Linked DNA regions of Homo sapiens. The protein of the gene in region 1 purifies or fractionates together with the protein of each later gene. This does not show direct contact. Each region holds a gene or a part of one and is shown on either strand. Other genes may lie near its edges. The genes, in order: ALDH1B1 and FH.

The links.
Region 2: the proteins of ALDH1B1 (region 1) and FH fractionate together in Homo sapiens (co-fractionation; 2 studies listed by BioGRID). This does not show direct contact.

Annotation. Positions count from the first base shown.
Region 1 is NC_000009.12:38,387,751-38,395,709, forward strand, and holds the start of ALDH1B1 (aldehyde dehydrogenase X, mitochondrial precursor), read left to right. Parts: upstream 1-4,951; 5' UTR 4,952-5,057; exon of another isoform or gene 5,058-6,683; coding exon of another isoform or gene 6,684-6,815; intron 6,816-7,959. UniProt on the Homo sapiens protein: ALDHs play a major role in the detoxification of alcohol-derived acetaldehyde. They are involved in the metabolism of corticosteroids, biogenic amines, neurotransmitters, and lipid peroxidation.
Region 2 is NC_000001.11:241,502,643-241,510,588, reverse strand, and holds part of FH (fumarate hydratase, mitochondrial), read left to right. Parts: intron 1-1,803; coding exon 1,804-1,986; intron 1,987-4,420; coding exon 4,421-4,586; intron 4,587-6,343; coding exon 6,344-6,547; intron 6,548-7,946. UniProt on the Homo sapiens protein: Catalyzes the reversible stereospecific interconversion of fumarate to L-malate. Experiments in other species have demonstrated that specific isoforms of this protein act in defined pathways and favor one direction over the other.

The DNA.
Region 1 (7,959 bases):
TTTCTCTGACTCCTGTTTCCCTTCGATAAGGACCCTTGTGATTACATTAGGCCCTGGCTATACAATCTAGAATAATCTCCCACCTCCAGATCATTAACTACAATATCCTCTTTTGCCATGTAAGGTAATGTCTTCATAGGTACCAGGTGTTAGGACATTGACGTCTTTAGGGGCCATTATTCTGCCTACCACAATCAGTGTACATAAGGTGAAGCAATAGGGAGTGGTGAGGCCTGTGGCAAACTGGAAAATGAAAGCCCTGCCTAAAGGGGGCAGCTACTACGTGCATCTCTAGTTGAGCCACTGTTCCATATCCACGTGCAGGCCTGATAGTACTAAGTCTTCCAATGTTTCAAGAACAAATAGAAAAGTACATTTTAATGTCAAATATCTCAATGTTTAAGCATTAGAAAGCATAAAACGGGGAAAAAAAACCCCACAACTCTGCTGGGGCCAAATAGAACATGTATGCTGGCTTGAGACTTGGGCTACCAGTTTGTGGTGTCTAGTCTGGAGCTTCTTCCTCACTAGGACAGTTAAGGCAGCATTACTTTATTTTGTGCTGCTTGTCACCTTGTCAGTGGGAGAAGAGACAGGCAGGTGTGAAGCCCAGGCTCTCTCTCAGGCCCCAGGGTGGTGTTGGTATTTCCCTTCCATTTACCACCCACGTTCCTCCCTTGACCTCTGTCCAAACTCCTCCTCATCTCTCCAAAAGAAGGAGCTCCCAAGGTTGCACGTGGCTCTGCCTTCAATTACTGTTTATTTCATTTGCATGTGGCTTTTCTCCTTGACCTTAACATGAGGAGGGGAGCCACAGCCAGGGCAGCGTAGTAAAAGCTGAGCCTTTTGCTCTGCTAGGGTGAACTCTAACTGTGCTTTACAGGTGCTATTGCCACACGTAAGCACTGCAACAGTCTTCTCTCCCTGCCCCACCGGACCCCAACCTCCTCCTCCTCTCAGTTGGGTCTTCCTTAGTCTCAATGATGCTGTCAGTTAAGGTGTGGTCAAGAAAATGGAAGCCACTCTAGGTGTTTTGAGTAGGAAGAGATTAATATTAACACAAGTGTTGGGAGGCTGGGAAGTGAAGGGCACTAAGCTATTGTCAAGAAATCTGGAAGTGCTAGGATTATAGGGAGGCTACTACCAGTGTTCTCTGCAGTCCACAGTCATGAACGGAGCACTCCTTAGGGGGGCCTTCAAAGCCTTGGGTAGAAATCCACCTCTGCAGATGCCCACGCACCAGCTGCATGTTTTGCTTCCAGGCCAGTGTTATTTGTGTGATTGTGCAAGAGCTTGGCTTCTAGTCTGCACTTGGATACTAATCCCCTAATCCCTTCCAAAGGGACCTTGGGCAAGTCCCTTTTCCTTTTTGGGTCTCAGTTTCTTCAACCATAAAAATGAGGTGAAGGGGAAGGAAGACAGAGAGGGAGGAGAACAGAGTTTGTGGCAAATACTCAGGGGTTAGTTATGTTCAACAACATTCAGACTTGCTCATGTTCACAGAGAGTAAGCTTCACTTAGAGGATCACTTAGGAAAAAAGAAAAAAGTATATATTGGTTTGATTTTTAAATGTATCTTTATTTTTAAATTTCCATTTCCTGCAAATGCCTCAGTGTCTTGACCTAGTCTTGCCTCTTCCGTTCAAATACAGAAAATGATTATGCTCAGTGTAGAAGAAACACTCAGTGCAGCTTTCAGTCCTTTTGTTTGGAATCTAGCTGATCTGTACGTCATTCTCAGAGCTGGATTCTTCTTCAGTAACTTCTTAGACATATAAGGCTCTACAACGCTGAAGGATAGAAATTGCTTCTCTTCTCCCACCAGCCCAGTGTAAACACATCCCTGGACGACACTGACCTGACTGTGGCTTGTGTTATCTCACCCTTTCCCCTTCAATCCACACAGGCTCCAGGTCCAATATCCTTACAAAGGGCCTGGATCTTTTTTTGTTAATTAAAAAGCTGAATCCATCACATTCCTGGAAAATAGTCAACCCTCTGCAAAAATAATTTGTGCATTTTACCTTCAGCTACTGCACATTCATTCTTCTCTCCAAACCATAAATGTCAAGCACTGTGGAAGTTTTTTTTTTTTTTTTTTGAGGAGGGGTAAATACCTTGCAACAGGACCACTTTGGTGAGTTCTGATGCCAGTCACAGCTTAGAAAGTGTCAAAGGTGGGCATGCTGGATAGAATCTAGACATAACACATTTGCAGGCAAAGTCACTTTCTGGAAATAACCATGACGGAGTCAAAGACTCCTCAGAAACCACTTAGGCCAGTGCTTCCCAAATATGGTTATATATCAGAAGCATATGAGAAACTTGGCCAGGCGCAGTGGCTCATGCCTGTAATCCCCGCACTTTGGGAGGCTGAGCAGGGCGGATCACTTGAGGTCAGGAGTTTGAGACCAGCCTGGTCAACATAGTGAAACCCCGTCTCTACTAAAAATACAAAAATTAGCTGGCATGGTGGCACGCTCCTGTAGTCCAAGCTACTCAGGAGTCTGAGGCAGGAGACTCACCTGAATTGGGGAGGCGGAGGCGGCAGTGAGCCGAGATGGCACTGTTGTACTCCAGCCTGGGTGACAGAGTAAGACTCCATCTCAAAACAAAACAAAACAAAACAAAACAAAAAAGGAAGCATATGAGAAACTTAACAAAAACTTCTGGGCTCCAACCTACATCTAATAATTTAGACTCTCTGAAGGCAAGGTCCAGGAGATTGTTAAAAAACAAAAACAAAAACACAAACAAACAAAAAAAACTAAGCTCCCCACTCAATTCTGATGTATAGCTAAGTTTGGGAGCCCCTTGTCTAGTTCTTATCTGAACTAGGATTTTGCCACATGGTTATCTGTCCTTCCCTGTACTCCTCCAGTGATGGGAGGCCCACTGCCTTTCAAGGGAGCCCCTCCCAGCCTTAGCCAGTTCTGCTTTTTCTGGGAGTTATTCCTCTGTATTCTTCACTGGTCTGGCTCTGCCTTCTAGGACCCCACAGATCCTATCTGGTTTTGCCCTTCAGAGATTTGGACGGCACAGCCTTGTCTTTCAAGTTCTAAAGGGTGAACATCCCAGTTCCTTCAGCTGCTCCTCAAGGGGCACAGCCTCCAACCTTGCCGCATGGGGGTCACTTCCTGTCTGCAGCTGGCCTCTCAGACCTGCCACAGTTTCCAATGCACTCTAACACGAGGACTGATACTCATTTTGCCATAAACTCACTCCCTCTATCAATGAGGCCTCTTAAGGATTGGTCAGTTAATCATTAAGTCAATCAGTCCTGGAGTGCTATGCCAAGTGCCCAAGGGGAGCTAGGCTGTCCACGTGCTGTGGGGGAGGCAGGAGGGCCTTGGCAAGGGGCTCATGCCGTTGCTGGAGAAACCCGAGGAAAGCATGGGCATCAAGGTGATAAGATGCCAATCATAGTGCCTTCATGGATGGCTAACTTTTGCAGCAAGGGCTGTGAACATGCTAAGGATGATATGGTAGCAAAAGATTCCATAGAGATGTAGCTTAAGGAAAGAACTAAGTGAATTAGGTCCAAGCAGTCGCATGTGAGCACCCTAGATCAGTGGAGAGGCAGGGATTTAATACAAGGAACTGGGTGCTTACAGACCTGCTGCAAGTGCCGGAGGCAGAAGCAAGCCTTAGCCAGACCAGGACCAACTCTCAGGACAATATGGACGTGGCCCACCAGCCTCGTGCCTGTCTGAGGCTACTTCAGACACCCTCCTGCAGCCTCCATTCAAAGAGCAGGAAGCCAGGTCAAGGAGCGGCTACAGCCACAGCGGCCGGTCCACAGCCAGAAAGCTGGAGAAGGGACAAGGAATGCTGCCGCAGAACATCTCCCATTTCTGCTATCCTGCTAGTGCCACCCTACAGGGGCAGGACAATACCCTCCAATGCGTGCCCGCCTTCCACATCCGGCAGAGTACTACTAATTGGCAGCACCTAGTCCACATCCAGAACTCTAACTGCAAATGAGGCTGGGAAACATGGCGGTTAGCTTTGGGACCTCCCTAGCCAGAAGGAAGGTGCAGCGAGGGTGGAGCGAGTGAGATGCATGTTCAGTGGTCCATCTTGGCAACCTTTATAGCAACAAAATGGAGACAATTAAATGTCCAACAGTTTACCCCTACAACAGAATTCTATGCCACCTTGGAGAGGATGATGTCATCTGTAATTAGTGATAGGAGAAAACTTCAAAATACAGCGCTAAGTTTTTAAATTTTTTTTAAAGCAGCACAACAGAGGTTACTATATGATTTTATTTTTATTAAAATAATTTTGAAAGATGCAGAGGAAACAATACTAGCAGGACGAACACCGTAATAATGGCTACCGTAGGTGAAGAGATTACAGGTGATATTTTTCTTCTTTTTTCATCCTTTCCTGTGTTTTCCAAGCTTTCTACACTGTGCATACATTCTTTTTGTCCTTAGGACAAAAATGTACTTTGAAAAATGCCCAAATATAAAATCTTCTTGAAGGAACTGAAGAAAGGAGCAGTGAAAGTGGAGGACAGAAATTAGTGAATCCTGGACAAAAAAAGTGAGGGAGAGGCGAGGCAGAGAAGGGGTTAAGGGGAGTCTCAAGGATGGCAGTCGATTAAGCAGCGTCTTGCAGCGGGGAGAAATGCAAAGTGTAGTTGGGGTTCGGTCTCCGAAAACTTTGCTGTGTGACCTGGGGAAGCCCCTGCCCCTCTCTGGGTATCTCTGTTTCCGCTCCCAAACCAGTGCCTTAGGAGCCTAGATCTGAGCAACGTGGACACTGGGCTTGCGGAGACCCGAGGGAGGGAGCGCTGAAGCGGTGCGGGCTGCCGGGGGTAGAGGGGCGGGGACCGGGAAAGACCGGGCGGGGCGAGGGAGGAGCGGCCTTGGCCGGCGACAGGACGTAGGCAGCGCCCCAGGCGCAGGCGGAGCCTCATTGGCCGCTGAGCCCCGGGCTGCGCGGAGGCGGGACCTGCGGCCAGCCCTGGGCGGCCATGTGGACAGAGCTGGGAGGGCCGGAACCAGAACCCAAGCGTGATCCTGAACCGGAGCCCGAGCCTGCTGCAGGTAACTAACGCTGGTCTCCCCTCGGCTCCCTCGGGAAGCCGCAGCTCCTGGCTCCGCGTGGGGGCTTTCCTCTCTGGGCCGCGGCGTCCGCATCTGGGGGCTGGCCTTTCCGCCGTTGCACTGTAGGACTCTCTCCACGTCCCCTAATCCCATCCCCCGCCTCTGGGTGACGCTACAGGAGCCCCGAGGACACAGACGCCCCCAGACCTTACCACGTTAGCTCGACCTCAACACTCCTGCCCACTCGGCCCACTTCAACAGAGGGCCCCTGACCATAGCCCAGAGGCTTGGACAAGCCCAAAGGTTGCGCCCTTTCCCCCGCAGAAGGGGTGAGGTGGGCGCCGCTGCAGTTCCCGCGGATAGAGAAGGTCCGGTCCTTCCCGCTGTGGGTGAACTGTAAAAAATTGCCTGTATTCAGGAGGATATGCAAAGCTAGGTTTGTGGAAGTCTGGGGTGAGGCTCCTATACTTTCTTGCTGTGTGTCCTCGGTGAGTCCCTGAACCTCTCTGATGCCCAGCCTTCTTCCAGAATGGGGGTCATCATCAACCCTGACCACCCAGGGACTGCAGAGAGGCTTGGCAAATTTCCCGTGAGAAGACAGCCTGCAAACTGTAAAGCATGATGCTCTGTGAGCTGTGATCTTCCTATCAGCAAGTGGAGGCCCCAGCAAGAACCCCATATAGGCCCCAAGAGTAGGAACGGCCTTGGTGTGGCTGCAAAGGTTTGCCAGCCTTGGCCTATGACCACCTCTCCTGACTGCTTCACCCCTCCAATCCTTACCCCATGGGTTGGTGACTCCCCTTTCCCCTACCTCCTTTTGGTCTCCTCACCCTCAGAGCCAGGCCTGTTGGTGGCAAGGGGGCTGTGTCCCAGCATATGGCAAAGTCCTGAGCTAAATGGAACCCTGGGCACCCCTGGCAGATCTGCTGACTCAGCTTCCCCCTGTGGGATATGATGAGGTTTCTCTTCAAATAATCTGATCAATCTTTTATTCTTTAATTCTTAGTATCCCCCCCTTTTTTTTTTTCATTTTTCTCCTTTTTGCCTTTGTTAGATGCCCAGGCATGCCACAGTACCAAGCGTTATCAGTACCAGCTCACATTCCTTTGCTTATTTGGAAAGAAGACTAACTTTCTAGCTCATTACAGACACCCTTTCCCCTTTCTCTCCACTTTCTTTTACGTGCCCACTCTATCTAAAATAAATCAAATGTTTAGCCAACCGGGATTAGTTTAGATTGTACGACCTGACCCCAGCCAATGGGGAAAGGGTACAGGGGCAGGACTTGCATCAGGAATAAAGGCTCTCGTGCCCCTTTGTTCAGGTGTGCTCTCATGGCAACTGGCCAAGGAGGCATCCCTCTGCGCAGAAGTAAAATTGCTTTGCTAAGAATCCTGTGTTCGAGTGTTCAATTTCCTTAGGATTTTGAGCATTATTCCTAACACCCGCAAGGGGAAGGGAAACTTTCTTGGTCAGCATTGATTATTATTATTTTTTTTAGATACAGTCTTGTTCTGTTACCCAGGCTGGAGTGCAGTGGCACAATCATGGCTCACTGCAGCCTCAACCTCCTGGGCTCAGGTGATTGCCCCCACCTCAGCCTCCCAAGCAGCTAGAACTACAGGCATGCACCACTATGCTCGGCAAATTTATTTTTGTTTTTTTGTAGAGACACGGTTCTTGCTATGTGCTCAGGCTGGTCTCAAACTCCTGGCCTCAAGCAGTCCTTCCACTTCGGCCTACCAAAGCGTTACCAGCGTAAGCCACCACGCCCATCACATTGATTTTTATGGGGCCGGGGACCTACATGGAGCCTTGCTTTCCTGATTGAGTTTTTTGTTCCTCTCCCTGCCCAGGGGTGGAGGGTGAGAGGCTGGGGGTGAAGGGACAGGCAGGTGCAATTCCATTTTACCGCTGGGCGGAGCAAGACTCATGAGACATCAAAGGCAGAGAGATTCAAATTCTGACTGAAGAATAACTGCTTCAACTAATCTGGGAACACTACACTCTGTTTAATTTTCATTTAATATGTATTATATGCCGTTTAAGTTTTATAACAGTAGTTGTTTTAACGAAGTCTACACTCTTCAGAGTTGTAGCTTTTCTTCTCAGCTGCCTCCTGACTTGCTGCACCTCTGGGAAAGCTGAAAAGGGATGCTGAGACCTGTGGTTGGGGGATGCTGGGCTAGGTCAATTTCTGAGGCACGGCCAGTTCTGATGTCCTGAGTGGAGCTTGCCAGGGTTTTTATATGCAAGACATCATTCAACATAACCCCATGAGGCATTTCACATATGGGGGAACTGAGGCACAGAGGTGAAATGAAGCAAGTCCCTCTCAGAGAACAACCATCTCCAAGTCCCTTTGATTTCTACTCAAGTCTTAGGTCAATTCTTAGACAGCCTTTGTGGCAATTTCAGTGTTTTCTCAGTGTATCATTCAGTACTGTGTGTTGAGCCGCTGCTCTGTAGCAGGCATACCTCTAGGCTCGGGGACGTAGCAGTGAATGGAACAGAAAAATAAGTTCCTGTGCTCATGGAGCTTGCATTTTACTGGGGGGAGACAGACAAACATATAAGCCTGTAAAGATAGTATTTGGGATGTGAGATAGAGAAGGAGTAAAGCAGGGTAGCGGGGATAGAGAGTGTTGGGGTGGGAAGGGTTGCAATTTTTTAAAGGGTGGTCAGGGAAGGCCTTGCTGAGACAGTGGCTTTTGAGACCCAGCAGAGGTGAGGGAGTGAGCTGAGGATAGGCGGGACGTGATGGAGTTGGCCCAGAGAGTTCATCAGGGCCCTCACAGCTCTTACAGTCTGTGTTTTTAGAGGTGACAGTCCTTTATGCTGGAATCTTGAAATGTTTGAGCTGGTGGGCCCTTGGGTACCGCCACCTGCCTTCTCCCACCTG
Region 2 (7,946 bases), on another chromosome or scaffold:
TGATTTTCAGTTTTCTTTATTCATTCTACACTTGTTAGTTGAATTTTTCTGCAAGGAAGATTTGTTCTCTCTGTCCCATTTATTTATTTATTCAGTTATTTGGGTATATCAGTATGGACTGATGGTTATTTATTTTATTCTTCAGGTTATGATCCCATACTTTTGTTTATATTGTTGCTTAAATTCTTTCAGCTCTGGGAACCCAATTCATTTGGCTCTTGTGTCCTTTTAGGCATGCCACCATCCTTTTACTTTTCTGAAGTGTGTTCCGACTTCCTGGTACTTTAAGATGCTCCAAGCTCATTGTCTTGTATTGTTTCTGCCCCAGCCCTAGAAACAGCCATTTTTCAAGGAACTGTTGGAGAATTCTTATTGGAAAATGATATTTAGAAACTGAGATCTGGGTGCTAAGTATAATTTAATATATTTTTAAGTAGTAAGGAAGAAGTGTTTTTAATACACGTTCATTGTATAAGGGATTTTCCCAATCTAATACTTGCCTTTATGAATTTATGTTCTATATATACTGAAGTCTGAAGTCTGCCTCAGAAAGGTAGAGTTATAGATGAAACGTGATTGGCTACATGTTGATAATTATGTAAACTATTTGAATTCAGGTGACAGGTACATAAGTGTTTATTATACCATTCATCCTACTTCTTTCGTAAGTACTTTATATTTTGCATAGTAAACGTCAAAATATATAAATAATGTATCTTTTTAAATGACAGTATACTTTTATATATATCTGTGTGTGTGCATGCGTGTGTGTGTGTGTGTGTGTGTGTGTGTGTGTGTGTGTGTGTGTGTTTAGAGATTGTGCTTCACTCTGTCACCCAGGCTGGAGTGCAGTAGAGTGAGCATAGCTCACTGCAGCCTGGAAATGCTGAGCTCCAGGGATCCTCATGCCTTAGCTTCCTGAGCAAGTGGGACCATAGGCATGCACCGCCATGCCTGGCTAACTTTAAAAATGTTTTCAGAGACAGGGTATTGCTCTGTGTTGCCCAGGCTGGTCTTAAACTCCTGGCCTCAATTGATCCTCCTGCCTCAGCCTCTGAAAGTGCTGAGGTTATAGGCATGAGCCACTGCACCCAGCTTGATATTATGTTTTAAAAGTACAGGGTCAACAGTTGAGGAAAGAGCACTGAGTATATACTACCTGGCTAGGTCTCAGGTTTGCCAGTTGCTAAATATTTTGGCATTTATACAGTCTCTTTGAGGGCTTGGCTTTCCTATTTTTAAAGTGGTAATCTACCTCACAGAATTTTTCTAAACTTAATAAAGAGCTGTTTATGAAAGACTGTATGCACTGTATAATTGTAAGATATTCAATTATAAGATTTTATAAGAATATATAATTCAATAATTGATGTAATTTGATATAATTATAAGATATTCAACTACATTGAAGATACTACTGCTGTCTTCAAGTGCAGTTGTTAACTATACTTCTCTGTATTTTGCTGTCATTTATTAGCAGGCAGATATAATACGTAATACATAATATAATACATAATATATTATATAATACATAATATAATATAATACGTAATACATATATAATACATAATACATTCAGTATACTTAATGTGTATAATACAGTTCTGAGTATGTGTTAGAAACCAGGATGCTGCTTATTTGATTCTATAATAACTCACCTATGACATGCCACACATACATGTAACTGAGCTGGGTTTTGAGTAGTTAGTTGGAGAGTTTTTTAATTGAGAAGTTTAATTCAGAAGTTTGTTTTTGTTGCCTCTGATTTAACATTTTATATTTCTTTTGAAAAATTTCCAACAGAGCTCAAATGATACTTTTCCCACAGCAATGCACATTGCTGCTGCAATAGAAGTTCATGAAGTACTGTTACCAGGACTACAGAAGTTACATGATGCTCTTGATGCAAAATCCAAAGAGTTTGCACAGATCATCAAGATTGGACGTACTCATACTCAGGATGCTGTTCCACTTACTCTTGGGCAGGTATAGGAGTTTGACTAATTTGATTCAATTTAGAGCTTGGTACAAATGGCCAATGTGTCATCCTTGAAATCTGACTAGCTTAAAAGGCCAAATTTGTAACCGGAAACTTCAGTGACAGAGGTTGTTCTGTTCAACCAATCAGTAATTTTCATTGACATCCACTTAGAAGAAAAGCAGAGTATACTGGCTATAAGTCAGATTCAGTCAGACTGCTCGGGTTCAAATCTTAGCTTTGCTGTGTACAAGCTATGGGACCATAGGAAAGTCATTTAGCCTTTCTGTGCCTCAGTTTTCTGAGCTACAAAATGAGGAAAATAATTTCCCTTTCATAGGATAGTTGTGAAGCTCTAGTAAGTTGATTTATGTAGAGTGCTTAGAAGCATGCCTGGCACACAGTAAGTACCCATTCATGTTAGCTACCATCATCACCACCGTCATCGCTGTCATCTCCATCAGTATCATCATGGTTTTTCTTTTGTCTTTCTTACCTAAATTAGTAGGTTATTTAAAATTTAATCTCAAAGTGATTAAATAAGGTAGATCTTTTTAAGATGGATCTGGCCGCATGTGAAGGAGATACTACTCTCTTCTCCAAGATATTAGAAAGTATTTTCATGTTTCTTTTTCAATGCCTTAAGGAATATCTAATAGTATACATTGTGAAGGAAATGTAAGGAAATACAGGGAATGACTTTTGTCTTAGTAAACTCACACTCCAATTGGGGTAGCTTAATTTCCTTATGGAAGGAATGAGGAAAACTTGAAATGAGTAATTGAAAAACAAATGATGGGACTAAATTGAACTCACTGGATTGAGTTGCTTCTTAAGGCTGTGTCTCATTTCTCTTTGCATCATTAGTACTTAGGACCATGCATAATTTCTAAGGAGGAACAGTATGTATGTTTTGAAACTTTTGAATATTTCTCAAGTTTCTAATTTTAACCTTTTTTTGGTGTTGAAAACTACAATACTAAATACCATTTGGGCCATGACTCAGCCTCCTGTGTAAAATCATCATTCTTCCTGTTAAGACAGAAAATTACATTTTTCTGTTTGACTTTATCAGAAGCATTTATACTTGCTTTTATTGGGATTGTCTTTTGAGTTCGTGCATTGTTCCCTGTCAAAGTGTATTTTATAAGTGAATCTATCTAGTGTGTTTGTGTGTGTGTGTATACATACAGTCATGTGTTGCTTAGCAATGGGGGTATGTTCTGAAAAATGCATCCTTAGGCAATTTCATAGTTATGTGAACATCACAGAGTATACTCACACAAACCTAGATGGTATAGCCTTCTATACACCTAGGCTATATGGCATAGCCTTTTCCTCCTAGGCTACAAATCTGTGCAGCATGTTACTGCATTGGATACAATAGGCAATCGTAACACAATGGTAAGTATTTGTGTATCTAAACATATCTAAATGTAGAAAAGGTACAGTAAAAATACGGTTTTATAATCTTAGGGTCCCACTGTTTATGTGATCTTTCGTTGGCTGAAACATCATTATGTGGTGCGTGACTGTATATGAGTGATGTTATATCAGATGCATCAGGTCTACCTATAATGAGTTATATCTTTTGAAATGTTTTCTTTAGAACAGTATGGCATCCTGTCACTTATGGTTTTTTAGTGTTTTCAGGCAGGAAAAAAGGATAGATTTAGTGTAACCATGTATCTTGGTTTGTCCAGTTAACTCCCAGTGTATGCCTTTTGTTTCTGCATGACTATTAATAGAGCCCTTTCTGTGTTCAAAACATAAATTCTGTGGTTGCTTTAATTAAGGCATGTCAAAATTTGGAACCAGTGTTGACATTGGCACATTGATGCTATGATCTGACTCTACCGTTACCTCCTATTCTTTTTGGAAGGTCCTTCAATGCAAACTGTTACCTTCCTGTGCTATTCAGTGAGTCATTAGCTTCCCAAGTCTCTGTAGAATGTCTTCATATTTCCTGGTAGGTTTATACACTGAAATTGTATGGAGAATATTTCTATGTTTGCATTTTTTTGGGGGAGATGAGTTACTATTTTTTCTTACACCAAAGTTGTCTGAGGCATCCCAAAAAATAAGAAATCACTTCAGTTTCTTTAGTAGACTGCAAGTAAACCAATAATTTAGTGTAGTAAAGTTGTTCTTTTTAAAGTGTATTTCCTGTGCTGTTTTTCTTTGCTTCCTATTAAAAGACTAGATTATAATAAATAGGCTGCATGTTATCAGTGGCATTGTCGTACCTTATGGTTCTATAAACCCTCATCCTTCCCTATACTTTGCTCATCATAAGATTTGAAGTAGTATAAATAAAACTTGATTAGCTTGTAATTTAGTATTCTGAAAGGTATTTTTAAAAATTTCTATTTAATGCAGTTAGAGTAACTTGTAAGCTATTAGGAATTACTTATTCTTACCTTAATTTTCTTTTCTTTTCAGGAATTTAGTGGTTATGTTCAACAAGTAAAATATGCAATGACAAGAATAAAAGCTGCCATGCCAAGAATCTATGAGCTCGCAGCTGGAGGCACTGCTGTTGGTACAGGTTTAAATACTAGAATTGGCTTTGCAGAAAAGGTTGCTGCAAAAGTGGCTGCACTTACAGGTTAGTGATCACGTGAATTATTTCTCATTTTCATTTCTCATTATACGTGGTCTGTACATTTTCTGAGTGTTCCTGTCTTGAATTCTTGTGAATTTAAAGTTAGAAATGATATTTTTCCATCAAACATGTGTTTTAAGTATATTTCTGAAGTTATAATGTTAATTATTTGCCTTTTAAAAAATGTTCCATGTAGGAGTTTATACAGCATGCCATTAAAATCTACCAGTGTTAGCTTTGTTTACTAGTTAGTTTTCAATTAATTTCCCTTTAAAGTTTTGAATAGCAGTTTTCAAAATAGGCAGAAAAAACTGAGTGTTGAGTAAGTTATTTGAATAGTAAATATGTTGTAGACAGACTTAATTTCTTTTTTTTCCTATTATGTCATGCTGTGATAATTCTTTGAATTATTGACCTTTTTGAACCATGTCTTTCCTTTAGTAGAGAGAGTATTATACTTTAGATAATGATAACTATTATTAGGGCCAAGTTGTCATCTTCAGAAAACTCTCATTAAGATGTAGATGTTACCAGACGGTTAGGGTAGAGATAATTATACACTGCACATGATAGCTTACCAGCTGATTTGTCTTTAAACCATATTTTAATAGAAAAGAACTCTACTTTTAGGGTTTGGCAAATGTAGATTTATAAAATTTTTAACATGGGGGTTAACTGAGAACATCTAACTCATTTTAGCACACTGTTTTTATAGGGGATCTTGTGGGCTCCTGGCTAGGGGAGAGGATGAAGCACAGTAAAGTGGACAAAGAAACTTTAAAAAATTGTATTAGGGGCCGGACATGGGGGCTCACACCTGTAATCCTAGCACTTTGGGAGGCCAAGATGGGCAGATCACTTGAGGTCAGGAGTTCGAGACCAGCCTGGTCAACATGGCGAAACCCTGTCTCTAGTAAAAATTTAAAAAAATTAGCCGGGCATGGTGGCGGGCGCCTGTAACCCCAGCTACTTGGGAGGCTGAGGCAGGAGAATTGCTGGAACCCTGGAGGAGGAGGTTGCAATGAGCCAAGATCGTACCACTGCCCTCCAGCCTGGCTAAAAAAGCAAGACTCTGTCTCAAAAAAAAAAAAAAGAAAAAAGGTATTAGGAAAGGAGTGTGGTATAAACCAGAATGAATTCCCATATACTTTTTACTCAAGCATAGTCAGGCATCATATACGTGTGTTTGCAGTAGGATTGTGTTTTTTCTTTCAGTACATTTATCATACTTGTTATTTCATCTTTTTAAAATGTAGTGCCTGGCTAAGCACAGTGGAATTACACTCCTGTAATTCCAGCACTTCAGGAGACCAAGGTGGGTGGATCGCTAGAGCCTAGGAGTTTGAGACCAGCCTGGGCAACATGGCGAAACCCCATCTCTACTAAAAATTAAAGAATTAGCTGGGCGTGGTGGTGTGCACCTGTAGTCTTAGCTACTCTGGAGGCTGAGGTGGGAGGATTGCCTGAGCCATGGAGGTTGAGGCTACAGTGAGCTGTGATTGAGCCACACTGCACTCCAGCCTGGGCAGCAGAGTGAGACCCTGTCTGAAAAAACTTAAAAAATGTAATACCAGATTCTTTCTACTCCTTTAGGACTTCTTTTAAAAATGTAGACAAAATTTGAGTCTTAAGTAAACATTTTTTTCTGAAGTAAAATTTTTATTTTTTCGTATATTGGAACTTTCTGTTTCACTTGCTAATGGTAGAAAAATGTTTAGTTTAACTTGTTCACCCATCTAGGATATTTTTCTTTTCTTTAGGCTTGCCTTTTGTCACTGCTCCGAATAAATTTGAAGCTCTGGCTGCTCATGACGCTCTGGTTGAGCTCAGTGGAGCCATGAACACTACTGCCTGCAGTCTGATGAAGATAGCAAATGATATTCGATTTTTGGGTTCTGGTCCTCGGTCAGGTCTGGGAGAATTGATCTTGCCTGAAAATGAACCAGGAAGCAGTATCATGCCAGGTAATCACATAGCTAGTAAATGTTGGAGCTAAAACTTGACTAGGTCCTAGGCATTCTTAGCTATGGACCATGTCTCTCTTTGTTTAAAGTTATCCCGCAGCTGGATGCGCAAGGCGCACTGTTCCAGCATGTCTGTGGTCCTCTGGTCAGGACTGCTGGGCACGTCACCTGACAAGATAGGAAGAAAGAATCTGACTTAGCAGCAAGTATTTCGAATCCCACATTAGAAAATGTAGAGCAGGCTGTTAAAGTGATCAGCGCGGGTTGAATAAAAAGAAGTCATACCAAACTTCACTTATTTCATTTTTTGCATTCCGTTATATGCCTGTTAGATATAGCAAGTGACACAACAGTGTATGTCTGGATTTCAGCAAGTCATTTGATAGATTCGCATGATAGTCATTGATTCCAGTGGAGAAGCGTGGGCAGTGCTGGCAGATGAATGTAGCTGGGTGAACAGTGACATTTCAGAAGTGACTAATGAAGTGACTTCAGTCTAGAAGAATATATTGGTAACAAGCTGAAGGGCTCTGCCCTTCAACACTTTACTGGTGACTGAGGGTGAAGGAAGAGAATACATGCTAATCATATTAACAGTTAACAAAGTTGGGATAGCAATACTATGGATGACAGAACTGAGATCCATAAAGGCCACTGTAGCTTGGGCTAAAACTGACAATGTAACTTTTAATAGTGAGAAAGGCCTGACTCTAGATTTTTATGGAAATTATGGATCTGTAGAATAAGAAGAGATGAAATTTTGTTTTAAAGTACTTCATGTTGAAGAATGACATAAAGGTTTAGTTGATTGCAAATCCAGGGTGATTGCCAAAAGAAAGAGAACTGGGGGAGTCACAGATAAAGGCAATAATCCACCCAATAATCTTTCCAGTGTGTTAACTTGTACTGGTCAGAGGAATCTGGGTTGTTTGATTCAAACTTGGAGCTTGTCCAAGGAGTGTGAGCAGGGTAGTGGGGTTCCAGAGACTCGTGATAAATAGGAAAATTTTAGCTTAGCATCACCTTCCCCTAGGAAGCCTCCCATGTGTTAGTGAAGGGTCGCTTTTATAAGTGTTCTGATAGCAGCATACACTACTCTGTATTTACCCCTTATAATTGCCAGCTCTTTCTCCCTAGCCTCCAAGTTCTGCGAGGGCAGGGCCTGCATCTTTCTTATTCAGTGTTGTATATTGAGTGCCTGGCTCCATAAATATGTATAGAATGAATGAAAATCATGAAGGTGGAGAACTATATTTAATGTGTAGTTGTGGCTACTCGTTAGCCTTTGAATGATTCATTTTGTGGCTACCCATCCCACCTTCCTTGGTTGGTTTGTTTCATTAAATTACACTGATGGTTGGGCCTTGCTTTATTGTATATCTTACTCTATTTAGTGAAA